5 linked regions of the Homo sapiens genome follow. The protein of the gene in region 3 purifies or fractionates together with the protein of the main gene of each other region. This does not show direct contact. Each region holds a gene or a part of one and is shown on either strand. Other genes may lie near its edges. The genes, in order: BOLA3, GLDC, NUDT6, NRGN and MMAB.

Region 1 (5,348 bases), on a different chromosome or scaffold from region 3:
CACTGCCAGCCTGAACTTCTAGGTGCCAGTGGCCACCTGAGAAGGACAGCGCTTGGCTGGGGCTGGTAACTGGGCTTAGGACAGAGTCTCCCCTGAGTCCCGGTTCTGGTTCCAGTTCCACTGTCTCTTCCCTATGAGGAGCTAGGCAATTCCTTTGGCCTCTCTGGGCTCATTTCCTCTTAGGGAAAGTAAAGCAGCTGAAGAAAATCTTTCTGGGGTCCACTCCAGCTCTGATATCCTAGGGTGTCAGAAGAATGGGGGAAAATTAGAGCAAAACCTATTCAAAGTCAAATGACAGACTGTGGACCTCAGCTCTAGGGTGACTGAGAGGGACCTTGTCTGAGCTGAGCCAGGCTGGCAACCTTGAGTCCTCCCAGCTGCGCCTTGTCCTCAGTTTCCCTCTGATATTTCTGAATCCTGACTGCCATCCCATGAGGTGGGGGCAGCCGAGCTCCACCTGTCCAGCAGCAACACATCTTGAGAAGCCACTCACCAGCAGCAAGCCCCCTCCTCCAAGCCCCTGACCCTCTGTCCTTCCAAAGGGCAAAATCTTATCCAAGCGCCGTAGGAAGAGTGAGAGAAACCTTACCTGAAATGTCAGTGACTTTTATAGCTGTAGCTCGTGGAAACTTTTCTTTGAGAATTTGGGTCACTCTGAGCTCCCCCTCAGTCTGAGTGGCAAACATCCGATGGTGAAGTGGAAGCTGCCACAGAACAGAGAGGAAGGTCAGGGCAGAGGAAGATGCTGTTGCCCCTGAGCTGGGCCACTGTGCAGGCCCGCCTGCCATTCCCCCTGCAAGGCAGGCCCCTGAGCCCTCGCCAGCACAGCCATGGGTTATGTCAGAGGGGCTCTGTGGTATCAGGAGTCCATGTAAGTGCCCCAAAACACAGAATAAACTTTTATTGGCGGGGACAGGATGATTGTTAATAACTCAATTTGACTCCAGAGACAAGAGGCCCCAAACCTAATTCAAGAGATGTTTGCTTCCATATAATGTTGTGACACTATTATGCCGATAGTTTTATAGGTAAGGAAACTGAGGCACACAGTAATGTGCCCAAGGTTGAATTCGGTAAGATACAGAGCCAGAAAAGCTGGATAGCCTGCCTCAGATCCATACCACTAGGCCATCCACTGCCCTGGATGGTGGGGCCAAATTCCACACTCCCTCGCCTTTAGGCCTGATTAACATGTCTCGCCCTCCCCAGTGGGATGTGACCTCACAGCCCACTGCTCAATTAGCCAGCTATCCTTCATCATGCACTCCTTCTCACTGGGAGCAAAGTCAGAATTCTATGAAAGAACCTGAAGAAGGAGTATCTGTAGGTTGTTTACCATTGGCAACAACACCCCTTCCCCAATGGCTACCATGGGGGAACCTGTGTTTGTGTTTCCTTTTTTTTTTTTTTTGAGACAGAGTTTTGCTCTGTTACCCAGGCTGGAGTGCAGTGGCACAATCTCAGCTCACTGCAACTTCCACCTCCCGGGTTCAAGCGATTCTCCTGCCCCAGCCTCCTGAGTAGCTGGGATTCCAGGCACCCACCACCACGCTCGGCAAATTTTTGTATTTTTAGTAGAGATGAGGTTTCACCATGTTGGCCAGGCTGGTCTCAAACCCCTGACCTCAGGTGATCCACCCACCTCAACCTCCCAAAATTCTAGGATTACAGGCATGAGCCACCACGCCCGGCCAGGGGAGCCCATGTTTCTGATGGAACACGTCTCAACAGTTAGTAGTGAAGGAGCAGAAAAGCAGGTCGGCAGTCACTTGGCTGGGCTGAGTGCATGCTGAAAAGGCAGACTGGGAATGGAGTGTGGCAGGCCTTGAATGCCAGGCTAAAGATTGTGGACTGTATGGGACAGGAGATGGGACTCCAGGTGATAGAACCCAGGCTCATGGGACCAAAGTAACCTGCAGGAAACAGTGCCTTCTGGAGCGAGTCAGGAGAGATGCCCAAGTAAGAGGCATTACAATGATGGAAGCACCGGGCACTGGTCCCTGACTAGACGTGGATGACAGGTTGGAGGACACTAGGGCCGTTCATGGGTGCTGGTGCTGAAGGTCCCACCCCTCTACCCCTCAGTCCTTCCTGATAGCTCAGAGCAGGGTCCTGTGTCACAGAATCTCAGAGCACCTCCTTTAAAATGAGCTGTGCACTGGCTCTCTCACCACTGGTCTTATAGGCCAGGAATGAGTCCGGCAGCATCCCAGAGCTGACCCCAGGGCAGGCCCTCAGAGGCACTTGGTGCTGGATGAATGAATGAGCAGGGGAAGAACTAGTCAATTAGGGACAGAAATGCAAGACAGGAGAAAGGTCCAGAGTGTGATTGTCTGCCTGCTGTGTGGAGGGACAGAAACTCGATGTTGAGAGGCTGGACAGGATTGCCAGGAGTGAGGGTGGGGTGGAGCTGCTTCTGGGGGCAGAATCTTGAGGGTAAAGGCAGAGAGTAACCAGATGGCAGACAGAATCGGCAGCTACTAAGGGGTGAGAGAGGTGAGCGTTGCAGAATCCTTGGGAGAAGCCTTTCATCTTAGCGGATCTGTGGGCAGCGGCCTTTAGTGGAACAATCAACTGACATCCCCAGATGATCACTGTCCACGCTGAAAGTCACCGCAGTGGAAGAACTTCTCTTCATGCACAGGGCAGGCAGGTTCAGAACCAGGGGAGAAGGAAAATGAAAGTTAAGAGAAAGAATGGTATGAGCTGAAGCAAAGGATGGTTCAGAAAGGGGGAGAGATTAGGAGAGCGCGTGGGAAGTGCCCCCTGCTTGGGTTCTGCTCCGGTAGTGTGGGATTTGGAGGAGGATCAAGGTCAGAGGCCCAGTCGACCTTCCCAAGGCCCCGGCCCCGCTGCAGTCCCTCGCACCCACGCCTTGACTCTGGGCTATGACTCCTGTCTTCTGCTCGGTAAACCAATCCTTTTTTTTTCCTGTGCCCGCAGTATTATGACTGTTCATGTGTCTGTCCGCCTGACCTCCAACCTCCACCCAGCTCGGGAGCTCCCCTAGAGCGCGCCAGAGCTTGAAATTTCGAATGCCGTTGTCGCTGAGTGAATGAATGAATGAAAGAATGAATGAGAGAAAGGAAGAGGAGCCCCCCATTGCCAGTGCCGCGCGCGCCCTCCGGGAGCCAGTCCTCAAGCCCCGACAGCCGCCGGCCCCGCGGTCCCTCCGCAGCTCCCGTCCCGGGGAGAGCAGCCCCGACCCTGCCCACGCTCACCCCGCGGATCCCGCGGAGGAGAGGCGCTGCCGCGGCCGGGCTCCATGCAGCCATGCCCGGCCGACGTGACCCGCCGCCCGAGGTCACTGTATGCCCGAAAGACGCGGAGCGGGGGACCGAGAGCCGCCGCCGTGGGAGAGGCCGCCCCCTGCCGCCCGGAGGCCGTCAGCCTCCCGGCCCCGCCCCGGAGGCCTCCGGTCGCCTGGCTCCGGCCCCACCCCGCCATCCCCTGGCCCTGGCTGACTCGCCACCCCCGACACTGCAGCGCCTGCCGACCTCGGGGCCCCGCCCTCTGCCTTCGCTCGCGCCGCTCTCCTTCAGTCTCCCCAGGGCCTGTTTCATGGATAGGGTCCCCTTGCCCGCGTGAAAGTCTCATTCCTCCTCAGCTCAGAAACACTCCAAGGTCTCGGCGCCCTATACTGGCCTTCCCTCATCCGAATACCCCTCGTGCTCCTGATGTACTTTTCCATTCCCACTCCCTACTCTGGCAGTCTAGCTTCTAAGCTGAGGAGTTTGGCCTTCGCTCCAGGTGCGGGGACTCGTGGAAGGATTTGATTCGCGCTTGAGAAAGATCGCTCCGCTCCTGTAAGGAAGAGAGCGTGTAGGGGCTGCAACCAGAGACACAGTCAGAAGCTCCGAGGCTACCGCGATGGTCCAGGTGAGAATGGAGGGGCCTAACTAAACCAGTGGCGGGAGGGATGGAAGAATGAACTGAGACACTTGGGAGGTGAATGGAATCGAGCGACTGCATGTGGAGGTGTGAGTGGGAAGGTATCTGAGATGACTCCAGTTTCTGGCTTGGACAATGACTTGGATGGAGGGTTAGGTGGGGGCTGAGCAGAGTCCACGAACAGTTCTTAATTTGCCTGAGTTTAAGGTGCCACAGGACACAGCCTAACAGAGGCCCAGGTTGGAGCCATGGACCATGGAGTCATGAGAATGGAAGGGAAGCTGACGCCATGTGGGATGGGGTAGAACTGTCCGCAAATTCGTCCCGCCTCTGGAGTCTTCAGACCAGTCAAGGCCGAAATTCAACCAAGCCTCTCCTCTCTCTAGCTGTTATTTGTTTGCAGCACGCGGTCTGGTGGCACCCTGCAGGATTTACCAGCTTTTTGCCAACATTCTGGCCTATGCAATCAATACGTCCCTTCAGCGTTGCACTTGGATGGATTGGACCTATAGTTGTTATATATGGATATTGTCTAATTTATTTATTACAGTATTAACTGACTCCTATGTTCTGGCCTTCAGAATTTCTCCTTTGGATCAATTACTAGCCTGTCTTACATTTTCTGCTTCATTCTTTTAAAATGTTTAGAGATGATTTGCTAAGTTTTCTTCATTGCTGTCAATGATGCAATTTAAACTGTCAAAAAAATTTTTTCTCAAGCAGGGTAGTAATGGTGAACCATTCCCTTGCTATTCAGACAGCATGGTTTAGATGAGGCGCACCTATCCCCAGCTTTAGGAATGGAAACAGGACCCAAGTCTGGCTAATCAGAGACTGGTTTAGGGTCGGCCCCATGGTCTGAGCCAGACCAATGAGAATTGGTAGAGGGACTTCCTTTTGCAACTTCTATTTTAGAATCGGGGGTATATATGCAGGCTTGTTACAGAGGTATATTGCATGGTGCTGAGGTTTGGAGTATGAACGAATCCGTCCTTCAGGTAATGAGCATAGTACCCAATAGGTAGTTTCAACCCTTGCCCCCTTCCTCCTTCCCCAGTCTTGTATTCCCCAGTGTCTGTTGTTCCCAGACATTGATCTTTTTCCTCTATGTTGCTAAGCTGGTAGAAAGGCTGGAGTTGCTGGCAACCATCTTTGCAACCATGCAGGGAGAACTACTTTGGAAATGAAGCAAGATAAAGAAGAAAACAGATAAAAGGAGACAAATGTTTGACTTTGTACAGCTGGAAACCAGCAATGCTGGAAATGAGCACTGAAGGCAGTTTAATGGGTTTGTCACTTGTAACCAAGTGACCCATGGCAAGCTCACAGATTTGTATTGGCAGAATTCCTCCTTTTCTTTATTTAAAATGGTACTTTTGGCCAGGCAAGGTGGTTCACACCTGTAATCCAAAGACTTTGGGAGGCCGAGGCGCACTGATCACCCAAGGTCAGAAGTT
Region 2 (4,283 bases), on a different chromosome or scaffold from region 3:
GCTAAGTTGGGGAGAACATTGCCATTCAATGGATATGGAGTCCTCTCTGAGTTTTAATGACTTGTTTTTGGAAAAAAAGAAAAAAATCTTTTAAATTTAATAGTTTCACTACTGCATCATAATGGGAATCCCATGTGTGTGACTCACTCCTCTCTTGAATGAATGATCTTATTATGCAGTTACACTGATAATAGATGGGAAAGCCAGAGAAAGGCTTCATTAATGAAATTACCAATCCCATCCTCAAGATCTCTGCTTGGCAACTCTTGTAACCTGACAGTAGAACTCCTTTCCCCTGACAGCCTCCCGGCTAGCGATTGGGTAATGGCCGACTCAGGAAAACACACTCACTTTGTGGATGCCTTGCCTACTTCACACATCTAACTGCAACAGCATTTGCAAGGAGAGAGAGGAGGGGCTCACAGGGAGGTGGTAACTGAAGTCACCACCCAGTGTTTCTGAATCATGTTGTCTCCTGACCTCAATGTTGTTTTGAAGATTGATAGAACCGTTTCCACACTTGTCCAAAAGCCCAGAATTGTCCAGGTGCCTGGCACATAGTAGGCACTCAACACATAGTGTTAATAAATGAGAGACCAAATGAATAGCTAAGTCGAAAAACAATGAACATGACAACACAGTTTCCAGGTCTTAAAGCATAACCGCTGAATGTGAATTTTTAAGGAAGAGAGCTGATAATCTGTATATTTAACACGCAGCTTCTGTGTGAGTCTTTTCAGGCAATTTTGGGGCATACTGCCTTACCCAGCAGTTCCAGGCTAATTATCAGACCAATTATCAGAATCACCTGGCATGTTTTATGACTCATAGATTTTTGGACCCTACCTTGGACTTCCTGAATCAGGGCCCAGATGCAGGAATTTCTTTTGCAAGAACTTCTCAGGTGGTTCAAAATATGGGGACCACTACAGCAGGATATGTTGGACTGAATTTGCTCACACATGGAATTAAGGGCAGACGTGATAGGTAATCAGCTTGTTCTCTTAAAAAAAAAAAAAATCCCTGTCTGGTTTGAGTGACAAAGGTGTATGCATTTACCAAAACTCATTAAATGGTACAGTTAGGATTTGTGCATTTCACTGTAAGTTTTATCACAAAAATATGTGAACAGATACTGAATTCTAGTCATGATATATATGCTGAAGGGTTTAAGAGTGAAGTGTACTAATGACTGCAGTGTACTTTGAAATGCGTCAGAAAGTAAGACGGATGGCTGGATGAGTAGATGTGATAAAGCAAACAACAGCATTGTAGAATCTAGGTGGTGGGTATATGGGTGCTCACCTACAGTCCTTTCAACTCATCTGGATGTTAGTGTTTTTTTTTTAATAGAGACAAGGTCTTACTCTGTCACCCAGGCTGGAGTGCAGTGTTGTGATCTTGACTTACTGCAGGCTCACCTCCTGGATTCAAGTGATCCTCCCACCTCAGCTTTCTAAGTAGCTGGGATTACAGGCACATACCACCACACCCAGCTAATTTTTGTATTTTTTGTAGAGACGGGGTTTTGCCATGTTGCCCAGGCAGGTCTCAAACTCCTGGGCTTAAGCAATCCGCTGGCCTTGGCCTCCCAAAGTGCTGGGATTATAGGTGTGTGAGCCACAGCACTTGGCCTGAACATTTTTAAATAAAATGTTGGTAGAGAATGTTTGAAATCATGCAGATGTTACTTTAAAGTACTCCATGTAATAATGATGCTCACCAGAATTTGAGAACCACTGCACATTGGGGCAAGATTAGTTCAGAGGTGTATCAACCTGGGAGTTGTTCTTCAGCTTTTAAAAGTTTCATAGGCCTGGTGTGGTGGCTCATGCCTGTTATCTCTGCATATTGGGAGGCAGAGACAGGCAGATCGCTTGAGCTCGGTAGCCCGGACAACATGGTGAAACTCTGTCTATGCAACAACAACAAAATTAGCTGGGCATGGTGGCGTGCACCTGTAGTCTCAGCTACTTGGAAGGCTTAGGTGGGAGGATCACTTGAGCCCAGGAGGTTGAGGCTGCAGTGAGCCGTGAGTGTGCCAGTGCACTCTAACCTGAGCGATACAGCAAGACCCTGTCTCCAAAAAAAAAAAAAAAAATGCTTTACAGAAAAATTATAAGAAATGAAAATGTTGTTTTTGATTTTTGTCCTGGAAATCTGTCTCTTGACTACATACCTTGTTGCACTACCTTACATGTGAAAACCTTTGGAAACAGAAACACACTGAGCCTGTGTTCAATGTAAAGGCAAAGGCTTTCCACATACTGGCCAAACTTCAGTTTCCTTATCATACAAAATGGGGACAATAAGATTTGCTCCAGAGTCTTTAACACTTGTTATCTCATTATTTAACTTTTGATAAGCTATAATATTTTTATTTCTCTTAATTGCACATAATACATGATAATTACTGAAAGACTCTAAAATACAATCGAAGTGAAAGAAAAATCCCAGTCTCATTTTCCGGCCATATTTAGAGTTAACATTTTATGTTTTCTTCAAGGCATCTTCCCTCATAAAATACACATATAAGTACTTTGTCCTTTTATTTATATATAGAAATGGGATATCATTATGTGGCTTGCTTTTTTCACTTAATATTTTTGAATGTTTAGCCAGTTTAACACATTTATGTACTTTTGAATGGTTGTCTATTTACCATATAGGTGCTCTGTAAAATTTGCTTATCTGATCCCCCATTGTTGGATATTAGGTTGTTTCCTAAATTTTTCTTCTATGAACAGCACTGAGATGAGTCCCCACATACATACATTTGCAAATGTATCTGATGATTTTCTTAGGATAAAATATAAGAAGGGATACGAACTTTTCTTCCAAACTGGGTAGGCCACTGACCTTCAGTGAGGCAAGTTCTCCTGTCTCCCTTTGCAGGATTTCACGCCCCTACCATGTCCTGGCCTGTGGCAGGGACCCTCATGGTGGAGCCCACTGAGTCGGAGGACAAGGCAGAGCTGGACAGATTCTGTGATGCCATGATCAGCATTCGGCAGGAAATTGCTGACATTGAGGAGGGCCGCATCGACCCCAGGGTCAATCCGCTGAAGGTGCGTAGGCCCTGGAACATTGCTTGAAATGTTCCTTAAACTAGAAAATGATGTCTGGACAGTGTACCAGCAACTCCCGAACTCTCAACTGAGGATGATACTCTTCCCTAGAATAAGGTAATTCTTCTGAGAAGATGCAGTTGTTACTTTGAAGTTTCCATCGTCTTGAACAGCATAGCAGTTACTCAAGGATGATGTGGTTGTGGAAGCTGTCCACAGCTGTCTAGTTGGAGAATTTGTAACATTCTGCATCTCTGTTTGATGTACTGTAGTGAGATTATGGCATAAATAAAATTTACATATTCACATCACAAACTCTGTACAAGCACACATTCTTATATTAGAGCAGTTATCTCTGAGAAAACTGGATTGACATTTGGACTGGATGTTACAATGTTTATGCCCCATGTTGGGGAAAAGTTGGTTGGGCATTACTCTGCCGCTTCCAAAACATGTTAATTTTACATCTGGTCAGAGTCCTAAGTTTCTTGTTAGTCCAGATATTAAGCTGGAAGATCAGGAGTGGAGAATACCATGAAGGCTGTGGTTGTGTCTTCATGGCTGTAAGCCAGAGAACAAGTCTGATATGACTGCAGCAGCTGGGGCAGGTTTCCAAACTGCCTACCTGTAGGAGAGGGCAGGGACCAGTGACTTGCAGAAGGCAGGCACCTCTCTAGAGGTGAGTTCACAGAGTCATGGAGGCATACAAGATGATTATGCTTACCACCGTTTATTACTCTTTTCTCTCTGAAGACACCTGCTTCTTTCAGGATTTAGGCTATTTTTTTAAATGGCAATAAACATTTCAAAGAGCATAATAGTGAGTTATAATACAAGTGGATAATACCACTCATATGATGATATCAGATTTTAAAATGAGCCAAATTATGCTATATGCAGTTTATTAACATATGCAGTAATAGTATAAAAGCATGATGAGAATGGTAAACACCGAATTCAGAAGAGTGGTTAGCACTGGGATGGGGATATACAGGCAGCACCAAACGTGTAGGTAATTTTTTCTAAAAGATGAAGCAAATATGACAGAATGCTCATTAGACTTTACTGGGTGGTGGATGTGATGATTATTACCATAACGTTCTGATATTTAAAATATTTCACAATTATAAATCACATTGTACCCCCCTAAATTGAAAGAAAACAACAGCTTTCTCTGCCTGGGCTCCTGTCAGAAGATTGACGGTTGAGGTGCAG
Region 3 (4,902 bases):
AACATATGTGGTGGGGAAAAATGTTTGACTATGTCCACTAATATTTGCTGAAGTCTCAGAAAGTATCAAAATCATTATTCTCTTTCACTTTTACTTCTGACTCCTGAGCATGAAAACATCTGATCCCTAATCACGGTACTTCTCTGGGAAATATTTGTTGCTTCTAGTCACCTAGACTCCTTATCTTGGTATCCAATCCTCTTCACATTGTTTCCAATCTAGCTCTCAAGTCAAATATCTTACCACTGTCCATATTCTGGGCCACACTGAACTTTTTACCATTATTTCTAAACTATGTCAGTCCCTTTCTGAGCTCTGTGCCTTTGTATAAGCAATTCGAATTTTATCAGTTTGTTTTTTATTTTTTTTCTTCTGCACCTGGAAAGCTCCTACTCATTCTTCAAGACCTAGTTTAAATTTCACCTCCTTTGAGAAGTCTTTGGGGACTTCTTCAGGCAAAGTTAATTGCTGTCATCTATTGTATGACTGTCTTTCCAAATAAATAGTAAGCTGCAGGGCATAAGGTATATCGTCTTACTGCTTTTTATATTCTCAGCACCTGGCACAGAGTAGAAACTCATTGAATGCTGAATGAATGGAAGAATATCTTGGTAATATATTAAAGCAGACTTGTCTTCCCAATTAAATACAGTCATTTATAATTTTCCTTTAGCCATAAAGTAATAGATAGTAACACTGAGTGTTACCTGGAAATTTTCAAGGTCTGTATAAGTAGTTTGGTTTAAATAAATATCTAAGGTGATCCATAACTGCTTAGAAATGATTTTTAAAATACCTTTCTATAACCCCTTAGGCATATTAAAATTTCTATATTTTATTCTTCTCTAGAAAGAAATAAACATTTAGGAAGCAATTTATAAAACAGAAGCAGCTTACTTTATTTCGATCTTGTACAACCAGTATTTTTCTAGTACTTTCATCAAATACAGCTCCTATTAGGGGAAAAAGAAAAGATAATTGAGAAATATTAATTTCATTCACCTTAATCTCCTCCCACACTCTCTATCTGTGGTGATAAAAATTCTACCCATACTTGAAGCCTTGGTTCAAATACAGGTTGAGTATTCCTTATCTAAAATGTTTCAGAGCAGAAGTGTTAGATTTTTCTGGATTTTGGAATATTTTCATATACATAATGAGGTATCCTGGGGATAGGACCCAAGTTTAAACATGAAATTCATTTATGTTTCATATACACCTTATACTCATAGCCTGAAGGCAATTTTATACAATATTTTAAATAATATTGTGCATGAAAACAGTTTTGACTGCATTTTGACTGTGACTTGTCACATGAGGTCAGGTATGGAATTTTCCACTAGTGGCATCATGCCAGTGCTCAAATACTTTTGGATTTTGCAGCATTTTGGATCTTAGATTTGTAGATTGGGGATGGTCAAGCTGTACCACCACCTCATCCATGAAGACACTAAGTGCCTGTCTTAGTCCATTTGGGCTGCTATAACAAAATAACCACAGACTGGATAGTTTATAAACAACAAACTTATTTCTCACAGTTCTAGAAGCTAGGAAGTCCAAGATCAAGGTGCTGGCAGATTCAGTGTCTAATAAGGGCTCATTCTTTACAGACGATGCCTTCTAGCCCTGTCCTCACATAGTGAAAGGGGCAAACAAGCTCCTGTAGGCCTCTTTCATAAGGACACTAATCCCATTCATGGGAGCTCTGCCCTCATGATCTAGTCACCTCCCAAAGGCCCCACCTCTTAATACCATCACATTGGGGATCAGGTTTCAACATATGAATTTTAGGGGGAACAAACATTCAGACAACAGATGTGCTTACAATATTTATTGAATAAATGAATTGACTTCTCATTTTTATTCCTTGAATCACTATGCATACAACACAGGCTGTGCCCCCTGATGATCCAAATCTCAAATATCTCAATATTCATTTCAAGACCTTTCTGAAGCCAATTAAATTTTCTTATTATGTATATACACAACTTTATAATCTACTAATATACTGCTTTGGAAGAGTTCTTTGTTTTATATATGTTTTAAGTTCTAGTTCATTTTTTTTTGTTTATTCATTCATCATACACATTGCATATTCTCTCTTTCTTTTTAAAAATATTTCCCTTTGGGCAATCTTGGGTCAAAAATACAAATGACGTATTAGTGATTTTTATTATGATCTTTTAGATGTTATGATTTAAACATTACTTGTATTTAAATAATGTGGGATGACATTTTTTAAAAGATACTTTCTACATATTTGTCCATGCTTTCAGTATTAACTGAGTTCCTCTATATAATGTACATAGATCCTGTGCATATTAATTGAGCTCCTACTATGTGCCAGGCACTTTTCTAGGTGCTACAGATACAGTGGTGAACAACACAAATGAAACTCCCTATCCTTATGGGGTTCACATTCTGGTATGTGTGTGGGGAGGCGCCAAAACAAACAAAAAATAAATTATATAGAATATTAGAAGGTGATAAATGCTATGTAGAATATAGAGAAGGAATAAATATGTGTAACATGGGGAAAAGTAATTGAAATGCAATTGAAATGAAAACACCACACTTGACTATTTTAAAGCAGGAAGGAAAATCACCAAGTGAGATATAATTAACATTAATGTTGGCTTCTATTAGAAAATGTAAGCTATAATTTAACTGGACTTTACAAGAGGTAGACTGCCAAAGAAATGCCAAGGAAACTTACTCTTAAATTTTAATAATTTGTGGTTACTCAAATTGAACTTGTCCCTAATGAATTCACTGTAAACATGAGCACAGTATCAGAGACAAAACCAGCACCACTAAAGCACAATTTGAGCGACCTCTGCTGGTCACAACATAAAAATTATTATTATGATTAGGCACTGTGCTTCAACGTACATTAGCTCAGGTATAAGTCACAATAATCCTGTGAGTGATATGAGTGTCTGGCTTCATATAGCTCTAACTGGTAGAACTGGGACTGATAGCCAGTCTGTCTGGATTCTAGGCAGGCACACTCTTCTCACTGTGCAATGCTGCCCCTCAACAATACTGAAACTTCTCTCTCAGAAGACTCACATTTCCATCCCATTCATTAAAAAAATATTGAATATCTACTTTATGTCACTCGCTGTCTTTAGCTTGAGGATATCGTGGTGACCAAGACAGATAAAATATCTGCCTTTATGGAGTTTATATTATTGTGGGGGAGATTAAGTGATACAATATAATTAATTTACATACATGATATAATAGAGTTTCAGACTGTGATAAATGCCATAAAGAAACATAGAGCTGGATAAAGGGACAAGGAATGATGGCACTAGTGTGCAGGGAGAAGTCACTTCTAACAGAAGGGTCAGGGGCTTTTCTGAGAAGGAGACACTTGAGCAGAAACTTCGGCTATGAAGAACTAGATAAAGAAAGTTCTGGAGAAGCATGCTGCAGGAAGAGGAGCCAGTAGATGTCAAGGCTCTGAGTCAGACACAAGCTTGCTAAGTTTGAAAAGCAAAAGAAAGCAATGGCTCCAGCTATTCCAGCCACATCTGCCTTCGGTAGTTTATAACAAATGCCAATTATTTTTCTTTCCACCTAAAAACTCTGCACCCCAGCCTGGGCAACATGGCGAAACCCTATCTTTGCAAAAAATACAACAATTAGCCTAGCATGGTGGCGCATGCCTGTAGTCCCAGCTACTTGGGAGGCTAAGGCAGGAGGATCACTTGAGCTAAAGAGGTGGAGGTCGGAATGAGCCCAGATCATGACACTGCATTCCAGCCTGGGTGACAAAGTGAGACCCTGCCTCAAAAAAAAAAAAAAAAAAAAAAAAAAAAACAACTCTGCACCTTTCCAGAACAATTTCTTACATTACCTCGTCCACACCCCCAACAGTGGCTTCAAATCCTAGTTAGTGTTCAAGATTGGTCAAGTTCTGCATCTCTTATTCTTTGAACTGCTCTGACACTCTAAACTATAATGTACAATATACAATATAGTACTTAGTTATCAACAGGCCCTTCATAGGATACTCTTTTTGCATATATTACCAATTCTGTAGTAATAACTGGGAACTCTTAAGAGTCTGTGCCCGTGAATGATAATTATTTGCATAACTTTCCATTGAAGTGTGAGGCTGTCACTAAATTATTGAGTAGAATCTTTTGAAATAGAGCTGAACGGAGAGTTTCTGAATGTCTACTTGCTACAGGGAAGTAAGACAGGGACAGAGAAGACATCATTAGGCATTCTTGAACAACTCCTTGAAAAGCCTTGAAAAGCAAACTACCTTAAAAACTCTTGTAAATTATATAAAGGCAAATAAAATTATTAATTAAATAACTAATATGCTTCATTGCTTTCATTTATTAAGGTCATAAGGATCCCTTACTATTATAGTTTTTCTAGAAATCTAAGAATTTTGGTCCTTAAAGGGTAGTACTGAGACCACCACCAGCAGCAGCAGCAGCAGCAAAAACAGAAACAGCCAGGAAGATCACCTGAATTTTCAGGTCCCACCATAGACCTACTGAATCAGAAACTCTGGGGATAGGGCCCAGCAATCTGTTTTAAGATTCCAGGTGATTTTGATGCAATCTACAATGTGAGAATCTGTGTCTTACTCTGAGGGAAGTCTTCTCTCAACTTTCCTATGTCTCTGAAGCTAATCAGCCACTTCAAAATTCTACTCTACACTTAAATTACACGATTTTAAACAACTGTTTGGCACAATAATGTAAATATTATTAAGAAGTAATTGTTCAAATCATTGAAAAATTGGTTTGCTTTACCTGAAATTCAACATAAAAATGATCATTTACTTTACAAATTTACATAATTAGTGCCAACATGTTTTACTCTGCAATAAATTTATTCCCTGATCCCAATTCAGTGCTACTATTTGAGTAGTGA
Region 4 (3,786 bases), on a different chromosome or scaffold from region 3:
GACAGGCGAAGAAGGTTCAGGGCCAGGTGGACAGTCATGTCTCAATTCAGGAAAGAGAAGTGCAGGCAGGATTGGGTGCGGGAGAGCCAGGCCCATCACCAGCACCGAGTTAGGGGTCTGCAGAGCTGATTGGAGGGTGGGTTTGGAGGGGCAAGGAAAACAGCAGCAGGCACTCCTGGAGTGGCCGCCTGTCCCCCTGCTCTCAGAGGGTACCTCCAGCTCAGAAGGACCCAGTCTGAGTCCAGGGTTTTCCGTGGAGAGGATGGAGAAGCCTCAGTCCGCCAGCCCTCTCCCCAGTAGAAATGCAGAAAGCTCACAGCTGGAATTAGGGAGAGGATGGGGATACTAGTCAGTGAGCCAGCCTCCCCCGACCTAAGGCTAGAGGCCCAGAGATTGTTTTCCCATTGACTCTTCATTTTCCACTGCCCAAGGATGAACTCAAACACAGGAGATAGGAGATGATTTGGATGAAGTGATAAAGAAAAGGCTTCACTCCAAGAAAAAAAAGAAAAAGAAAAGAAAATGAAAAGACCTGCAGGAGCAAGAAGCCCTTTCCAGGGTGTGCTTATGAGGAAGAAGGGAATTATGGTGATAGCTACCACTTAAGCACTTACCTTGTTCCAGGTGCAATAACGGTGTTTTACAGGCATTATTTTATTTAGTCCCCCAAAATAAAGCTATTACGTACCTTTTTATCATTACCCCTAATAAAACTAATGATTAGACTGTTTAAAAACCTACCTGGGTCATACGGACAGTTACCAGTGGACCCAAGATTCAAACCTTTGTATTTCAGAGTCCAGAATATATATTTTTACCCCTACTTTGTAGGATAAGAAAATGCAGCCCAGTCAACCAGCCAAGGTCTACCATTTGCTATAGGTGTGTGGCCTTCGGCAAGTTATCTAATCTTTTCCTATCTCAGCTCCTTCCTCTAAAATATCAGGATAATGGTATCCACCTCTATGGGTCGTGGGGAAGAATAAACAGCATGATATGCATAAAGTCTCTTGCACAACCTAGCTGCTCAATAAATGGTAGCTTTTATGCTTGTCTTAAAAATAACATTAAGTTAATGTGAAATAGTCATTTTTGTAGGCCAAAAGTGGTCATATAATAACAATTTCATATGGTTCAACCTAATAATAATCAGGCCCACCTCTATGCCCCAAACTAGGTTTCTGCTTCTCTGACAGCCTGCCCTGGCTGAAAGTAGAAGGCGTGAGGGGATTGATGGTATAGATTGCAGAGGAAAGGCTATGGAACGGAGAGGAATTCAGCCTCTGAGCCCTTTTGTTGCATTAACATTACTTGCAGTATTAGTGTGGGTCAGGATGGGGATGGTTACTATGAAGTTAGAAGGACATTTCTCCTTTGATCTGGCTCACTGGCTTCTAGGAATTTGCCTCCTTCTTTTTTTTTTTCTTTTCATGAAGTCTTCCACTGCTTTGACTATCTTTTTCTTCTAGGACACGAGATGACCAAGGTTTCACATAATAATGGTAATTCAGTTCTGCACATTAGCTCTCCCTGCCATCATCCATCCGGTTCATAGAAGTGGACAGGATATGAGGAAGGCTTCAGTGATCACTGTCCTAGCCAGATTCTGCCCCAGGACCACAAGCTTAAACTCCAGATGCCCAAGCCCCGGCTTATAAATGGTTCCCCTCGCCATGTTTCCCAAGGTTAGCCTCATTTCCTGGGCTTCACATTCTTCAATTCGTGCTCAAGATGCCCATAATCGATTTAAACACAGTTAAAAGGAGTTACATTTTGGTAGAAGAGTCAAAAAAACAGAAAGAAAAAAAGAGTTACAAAAAGGCAGGTATGGTTGTGGAAAGGCCAAACACAGGTCTAGGGTGCTCAGAAAAGACTCCTTTGGAATGTTTTATTCTTAGAGCTCAAGTCTTTCTTGGGATATCCTCAGGGAACAGTGAGGCTTCTTCTCAAGAGGGTGACAACCATAAAAAAGCATTCCTGACCTACCTTTCCTCCTTGGCCTCGCAGCTGTGGAGGAGTGGGAAGGTTGAGTGGAGGAAGGGATATCTGCCTCCAACCACGCTAGACCCGACCTGCTGTCACCGCCCGCCCCAGCTGGATCCAGAATGGAAACCTGGAATAGCAGGCAAAGCCACCCCCGACACTCCATGTTCCTCCCCAGAACCAGCTCCCTCTCCTACCAGCTGAATTTTCAGGACAGAGCTGCCAGGTGGCCAGTCCACAGGTGGAAGTGGAAGGAGATTGAAAGGACCTGGGAAGAGGTTCATTGGTCATGGTGCCTGGCTGGTGCTTTCCAAAGCCAAGGTTGCTGGTGTGTGCCTGACAGTTCCATAGGAAGTAGGGACTTCTGGGAGGGAGGAGGAGGTGGAAGGTGCCCTGGTCAGCAAAGTGGGGTCCAAGCCTTCTAGTCCCAACTGGGCACATCACTTCATCTCTGAGAGTCTCATTTTCTTCAGCCACAACTAATGAACAAAGTCTCCTTCAGCTCCCAAATCCGAATAGCTTTAAGGATATCCCCTGCTTGCTGCTTGTTATTATGTCAGGCCCTGTGCTAAGCGCTTTGCATATATTACCTCATTTAATCCCCATTTTGGAAGTCAGGAAACAGCCTCTGAGACATTTTGTAACTTAGCTAAGGTCACTCAGTTGACAAATAGTGAAGTGATGGGATTCAGTAGCCTCTGCTGCTAGCCACTGCCTCAGGGCAGGTAATTATTTCTATGAATTCAGCAGGGCCAAGCCAACTAGACTAAGCAAAAGAAATGAGGATCCAAAAAAATTCATGCGCTTTTTCATGCGCGGTGAATGCAGGAAAAGTCATATATATATATGGCTATGTAAATCAGCAACTGCAATATTTGAATCAGCATGAATAAAAAACCATTCCTCTGTCTCTTAAAAAAATAGGCAGATCTGTTTTCTTCTTCCTCATTTCTATCTGAGCCTCTGTACCAAGGAGAAACGGGAATAAGACAGGACTAGATTCTTCCCAAACACCAGGTGATGCGGTCAGTGAGGAGAGCTCCAGAATCAAAAGATGAAGAAGGACCTGCCTCTAGCCCCCAAGAGGTATGCTGTTCTTCCCACACATCTCAGCTCTCTCCCAGCACTGAGTCCAGCCCTCCACAGAAAGGGGAGGAAAATGCCCACCCCTAGCCCTGCCCTTCCCCAACCCTCCACACATCACTCCTTCTTCTTCCTGCCCTCCTGCACAGTCTGATAATGGTGCTCTCTCTTGCTCAGCCCTTTAGCCCTGCAGACCTAGGACAGGGCATGACTTGGGAAGGCTCCTGTGCACAGGGTGCACTGGAGGAGGTGCCCCAGGCCCTGGGCCATGGAGATAATTGTGTATCTGCTTCTCTTTTACCTTTTGGGTGGGTAGCCTCTCCTTTTTTAAGGGACACTGACTTCAACCATGTCTACTAATCCCTCAGTATGGCTCCCTGGGCACTCAAGAGCAACAGTTCCAGGCAGGGACCCCCACATCCTACTCTAATTACTACTGCAGACACAGAGGAGACCAATTCCATTCCTTCCCTGGCCTCTTGGATTCTTTGTTTACTCACCTCTTTCCAGTGACCACGTCTCCCACTTCCCCTTCCCCAGCAATACTCCCCTGTCATCCTCACCTCTCCCCTCCCCCCAGCTCATTTCCCAGAACCCACCATCCATTTATCTTCTCTACTTTATACAACACTGCTGGGAGGAAGGGCTCTTCCTCAGTGGAGCCCAGGAACCTCCATGAGGAGCCCATTTCTCCCTTCACAACCAAAAAATTGCTTCCTG
Region 5 (4,902 bases), on a different chromosome or scaffold from region 3:
TTTGGGAGGCCCTGTTGGGCTAATCATCTGAGGCCAGGAATTTGAGACTAGCCTGGCCAATGTGGTGAAACCCCATCTCTACTAAAAATACAAAAATTAGCTGAGTATGGTGGTCCATGCCTGTAACCCCAGCAGCTACTTGGGAGGCTGAGGCAGGAGAATTGCTTGAACTCGGGAGGCAGAGGTTGCAGTGAGCCAAGATCATGCCACTGCACTCCAGCCTGGGTGACAGAGCAAGACTCCATCTCAGAAAAAAAAAAAGTCTCAGAAAAAAAAAGTATGATATTTGACAGATCTCAAAATATGTTACAAAAATGTAATGTGAAATGAAAAACACCCAAGAGATATTAAATGACAAAAGCCTGAATCTGTCTGGATAAGCATGTACATATATGTGTGTTCAGGTGTGTGTAGAATAGTCTGAAAGGTTACACCTGGGACTGTTCTGGGAGAGAGATTAAGTTGTGAGAGGGGAACAAACAGAAGGACTTTCACTATTTACATACTTTTATTCTATTTTATTATTTTTTATAATGAGTATATATTACTTTAATAGTTTTTAAAATGCTAGAACATGTTATATAGAAAAAAGTAAGATGCAGAAGAATGCGTTGCTATGATCCTTTTTTTTTTTTTTTTTTGATACAGGGTTTTACTCTGTCACCCAGGCTGGAGTGCAGTGGCTCAGTCATGGCTCACAACAGCCTCCACCTTTCAGACTCAAGCAATCCTCCCACCTCAGCCTTCTGAGTATCTGGGACAACAGGCACACATCGCCATGCCTGGCTAATACTTTTTAATTTTTTTTGTAGAGATGAGGTCTTGCTGTGTTGCCCAGGCTGGTCTTGAACTGCTAGGCTCAAGGTATCCTCCCAGCTCAGCCTCCCAAAATGCTGGGATTACAGGAGGCATGAGCTACCGCACCAAGACAGTATACCATTTTTTGTAGTACAAAAGCATGCAGACCACTAGTATGTATTGTTTTTTGGATATATACTTGTATAGTAAAAGTATAAAAGCATGTACGGGACATACTCAGTGCCACTGAATGGTAAACTTAAGAAGGGTCAAAATGGTAAAATTTCTGTTATGTATCATCTGTTACCACAATTAAAAAGAAGGAAGAGGATGTTGGAAAGGACTTATTGTAGGGTTGGGCTTGTGTTGGGTGGTTACAAGGAAGTGGGGCTTTGTTCTGGATTGAATCCTGTTAGGAAGCAGGGCTGTTTCTGTCACTGGGTATCTTTTTTTGTTTTTTGAGACAGGGTCTAGTTCTGTTGCCCAGGCTGGAGTGCAGTGGCACGATCTCAGCTCACTGCAACCTCCTGGGTTCAAGCAATTCTTATGCCTCAGCCTCGCGAATAGCTGGGACTACAGGCATGCATCACCATGCCCAACTAATTTTTTCTGTTTTTAGTAGAGACGGGGATTTGCCATGTTGGCCAGGCTAGTCTCGAACTCCTGGCCTCAAGTGATCTGCCCACCATGGCCTCCCAAAGTCCTGGGATTACAGTGTGAGCCACTGCACCTGGCCTGTAATTGGGTATGTTAATAATTTGTTTCTAGAAGACAGAAGGGACAAAGAGGTGCTAACGCTGTAATGGATAAAGATGCAGCAGTCACTCACATTAGCCAGGGAAGGGGGAGGTTTGGTCATCTTTTGGAGTTTGGACACAGTCGTCTGTGCTCAGACGTTCTTCCGCAGTGGCCTTGTCTTGGTCTCGAACCGTCATAGTCATAGAGTGGCCTGTCTGATGGTTTTCTGTGAAATGGTTTGTGTTCAGCAGAACACCACAGTCTACCTGTGAGTGCCAGGCCGGCACCTGGCAACCCCAAAGCCTGCCCGATAGCGAAAGCCAGCTCCAAACTGTCAGGGGCAGTTTTCACTTTCTCAGAGGTTGGGGGAGAAAGGCGGGACTGTGAGCTAGGCAGAGGCACAGAGGACTTTGACTTCATGTGAAATATAATGGTAATGTATATATGATATAAAATATAGAACGTGTTGTATTTCTTTATCAGGATGGTTAGTATGTGGTTTTTAAGTTGAAAAGCACATCAGGAAAGAAGTGAGCATAGTGGCTAACCCTTGGGGAGTGGCAACTAAAAGGGGTTACATGGGGGCTTTCAGGGTGTTGCTCATGTTCTGTTTATGAAGCTAGGTGCTGATCAAGGAGGTATATTCAGTTAGTAGTAATTCACCAACTTGCACACTTACGATTTGAGCACTTTTCTGTGTATATGCTATATTTCAAGTTGAAAGTTCTTTAAGGGGTGGTACGGTGGCTCATGCCTGTAATCTCAGCACTTTGGGAGGCTGAGGCGGGTGAATCACTTGAGACCAGGAGTTCAAGACTAGCTCGGCCAACATGGGCGAAAACCCGTCTCTACTAAAAATACAAAAATTAGCCGGGCATGGTGGTACACACTTGTAATCCCAGCTACTTGGGAGACTGAGGCATGAGAATCACTTGAACCTGGGAGGGGGAGGCTGCAGTGAGCCAAGATCACGCCGCTGTACTCCAGCCTGGATGACAGAGTGACTGTTCAAAAAAGAGAAAGTTCTTTAAAATCTTTGAAAGTTTAAAAAAAAAAAAACAGCATATCAGGAAAACAGAATCTTAATTTGGGTGGCTAAACATTTTTTTCCACAGGGTTTTCTAGTACCTTCACAGGAGAAAGGAGACCCAAAGATGACCAAGTGTTTGAAGCCGTGGGAACTACAGATGAATTAAGTTCAGCTATTGGGTAAGGGGGACAGGATTGGCCTTGAGGTTGCGTTTGAGTCGAGTATGAGTAAACGTAATGAATGTGAAGCTCTCACGCATGCTGGGCAGCAGCCTCGGAGGTTGTCAGCCCTTATTGAACTTTCCTCAGCCCTGAAGCACAGGCTGGTCAGCTCCACAAGGCTGTGGGGCTGCAGACTCCTTTCCCTTCTGGCCCTGCCTGTGCCTGCGCTGGCCTCTGGCCCATGCCATGTGAAGCTGCCTCCCTCTCATCCCTCACTTTTCAGGTGAGCCTGTGTGTGCCACTGAGGTTAGTATACTGAGTGAAAGAGGTGAGTTAGTATAATGCACAGTACATCCAATGTGATCCCTTTTGTGACTGTTGTTTTTTACATAAGCCAAAGTTTAGAAGGTGGACTCAAGGATGGACCAGATCAGGATGGGCCAGGTCATGCTGTGATCACAGACAACCCCAAAATCTCCTGACTTATGACACCAAAGATGGACTTGCTGTTCCCACTTCATGCCCATCACAGGGTATATTCTTTGGCTCCATGCGGCCTTCATTCTGGGACACAGGCTGCTAGTACAGCTGCTGCCTGGGGCAATTATCAGTCATTGTGGCAGAGGGAAAAGAGGTCATGGTGAAGCTCACATTGGCTCCTGACGCTGCCAGGGGATTGTGCAGTGTCAGTGTTGTCGCCAGTGAGGTTTACCCAAGATGTGATTATTGCTGATTGAAAACTTTTCCCACTACCCCACCATGATGACTTGAAATATAGTCAACATTGGCAGTTTTTGACAGTCTTTATGGAGACTAAACTTTGTTGGTAAATAAAAGTTGAAAAAAAAATGACTAGGTGCAGCGGCTCACATGTCTAATCCCAGCGCTTTGGGAGGCCGAGGTGGGAGAATCACTTGAGCTCAGGAGTTTGAGACCAGCCTGAGCAACATAGCAAGACTTCATCTCTACTAAAAAGAAAAGTTAAAAAATTAGCCAGGCGTGGTGGTGCACACCTGTAGTCCCAGCTACTCAGAAAGCTGAGGCAGGAGGATCACTTGAGTCTGGGAGGTTGAGGCTGCAGTGAGCCATGATCGCACCACTGCACTCCAGTCTGGGTGACAGAGTACGACTCTGTCTCCAAAAGACAAACCTTTCTTGGGAATGATGCCTTCCATTTATTCACATTTCAGCGGCCAGAGCCTGTCACGTGCACATGCCTGACATCAGCGGGGTAGGAGGGGCAGCAAATATTTGCAAGCAGGAGCACAGTCTGCCCAGCATGCCCTACAGGCTGGTGACAGGGGGAGCAGCAACAGTCTCAGGTGCTGGATCCTGAAATCTGACCCCGGGGCCCTGGGGTTATAGGTGCATGGGAGCCAGACAGACCCAGCTGCAAATTTTCAGCACCGCTGCTGATTGTCTCTGGGACGTCAGGTAAATCACGTGGCCTCTGTGAGCCTCAGTTTACGGTTCTGTCAAGTAGTCATCATGATAATTCCCATCTCACTGTTCTTGTGGGGCTTAAATGAGATGATTCCATGTTTCACCCTGAGGACAGTGCCTAGCACAAGTAAAAATAATGTTAGCTATTATCACTCTTCTTTTTTTTTTTTTTCCGAGACGGAGTTTCGCGCTTGTTGCCCAGACTGGAGTGCAATGGTGTGATCTCGGCTCACTGCAACCTCTGCCTCCCGGGTTCAAGCGAGTCTCCTCATTATTACTATTCTTAACACTTACCTGTTCCTGGCTACCATTTCTCCATGGCGGGCCTGACTAGGTGAGATTTTCGGGACAGATAATGGGAGGTACAGATAGTCAGCCAGCCGGGTAGAGAAGGCAAACAAACCCCTTGGTGTGTGTGGGAGGGGGTCCAGAAGAGGGCAGACACAAGACCAAGTGGGCAAAGGGAGAAAAGGCCAGTTCTCGCATCAGCTATTCTAATGAGCTCTAAAACACGAGCCATCGTCTCTCAGTTGAGGAGGAGCGGGAGGTTGGAGAAACCTCAGTTGTGGATTCTTCCTTGGTCAGATATTGACCAAGCATCTGCAGTGCGAGGCGCTGCTCAACAGAGAACCTCAGCCCCGCCTTCCTGAGCTGCAGAGTGCAGGGAGCAGAACCTCAGCCCCACCTTCCTGAGCTGCAGAGTGCAGGGAGCAGGCAGCACTCACTGGGCAG

The links.
Region 1: the proteins of NUDT6 (region 3) and BOLA3 purify together in Homo sapiens (affinity purification with mass spectrometry; 3 studies listed by BioGRID and IntAct, with this or other methods). This does not show direct contact.
Region 2: the proteins of NUDT6 (region 3) and GLDC purify together in Homo sapiens (affinity purification with mass spectrometry, with the first as the bait; one large-scale study listed by BioGRID). This does not show direct contact.
Region 4: the proteins of NUDT6 (region 3) and NRGN purify together in Homo sapiens (affinity purification with mass spectrometry; 2 studies listed by BioGRID and IntAct, with this or other methods). This does not show direct contact.
Region 5: the proteins of NUDT6 (region 3) and MMAB purify together in Homo sapiens (affinity purification with mass spectrometry; one large-scale study listed by BioGRID and IntAct). This does not show direct contact.

What each region holds. Positions count from the first base shown.
Region 1 is NC_000002.12:74,144,600-74,149,947, forward strand, and holds the start of BOLA3 (bolA-like protein 3), read right to left. Parts: upstream 3,314-5,348; 5' UTR 3,276-3,313; coding exon 3,222-3,275; intron 705-3,221; coding exon 590-704; intron 1-589. UniProt on the Homo sapiens protein: Acts as a mitochondrial iron-sulfur (Fe-S) cluster assembly factor that facilitates (Fe-S) cluster insertion into a subset of mitochondrial proteins. Probably acts together with NFU1.
Region 2 is NC_000009.12:6,534,849-6,539,131, reverse strand, and holds part of GLDC (glycine dehydrogenase (decarboxylating), mitochondrial precursor), read left to right. Parts: intron 1-2,895; coding exon 2,896-3,068; intron 3,069-4,283. UniProt on the Homo sapiens protein: The glycine cleavage system catalyzes the degradation of glycine.
Region 3 is NC_000004.12:122,911,671-122,916,572, forward strand, and holds part of NUDT6 (nucleoside diphosphate-linked moiety X motif 6), read right to left. Parts: intron 954-4,902; coding exon 898-953; intron 1-897. UniProt on the Homo sapiens protein: May contribute to the regulation of cell proliferation.
Region 4 is NC_000011.10:124,741,541-124,745,326, reverse strand, and holds part of NRGN (neurogranin), read right to left. Parts: intron 1,066-3,786; exon of another isoform or gene 432-1,065; intron 1-431.
Region 5 is NC_000012.12:109,566,613-109,571,514, reverse strand, and holds part of MMAB (corrinoid adenosyltransferase MMAB precursor), read left to right. Parts: intron 1-2,651; coding exon 2,652-2,745; exon of another isoform or gene 2,746-3,212; coding exon of another isoform or gene 3,213-3,260; intron 3,261-3,938; exon of another isoform or gene 3,939-4,161; intron 4,162-4,347; exon of another isoform or gene 4,348-4,487; coding exon of another isoform or gene 4,488-4,504; intron 4,505-4,902. UniProt on the Homo sapiens protein: Converts cob(I)alamin to adenosylcobalamin (adenosylcob(III)alamin), a coenzyme for methylmalonyl-CoA mutase, therefore participates in the final step of the vitamin B12 conversion.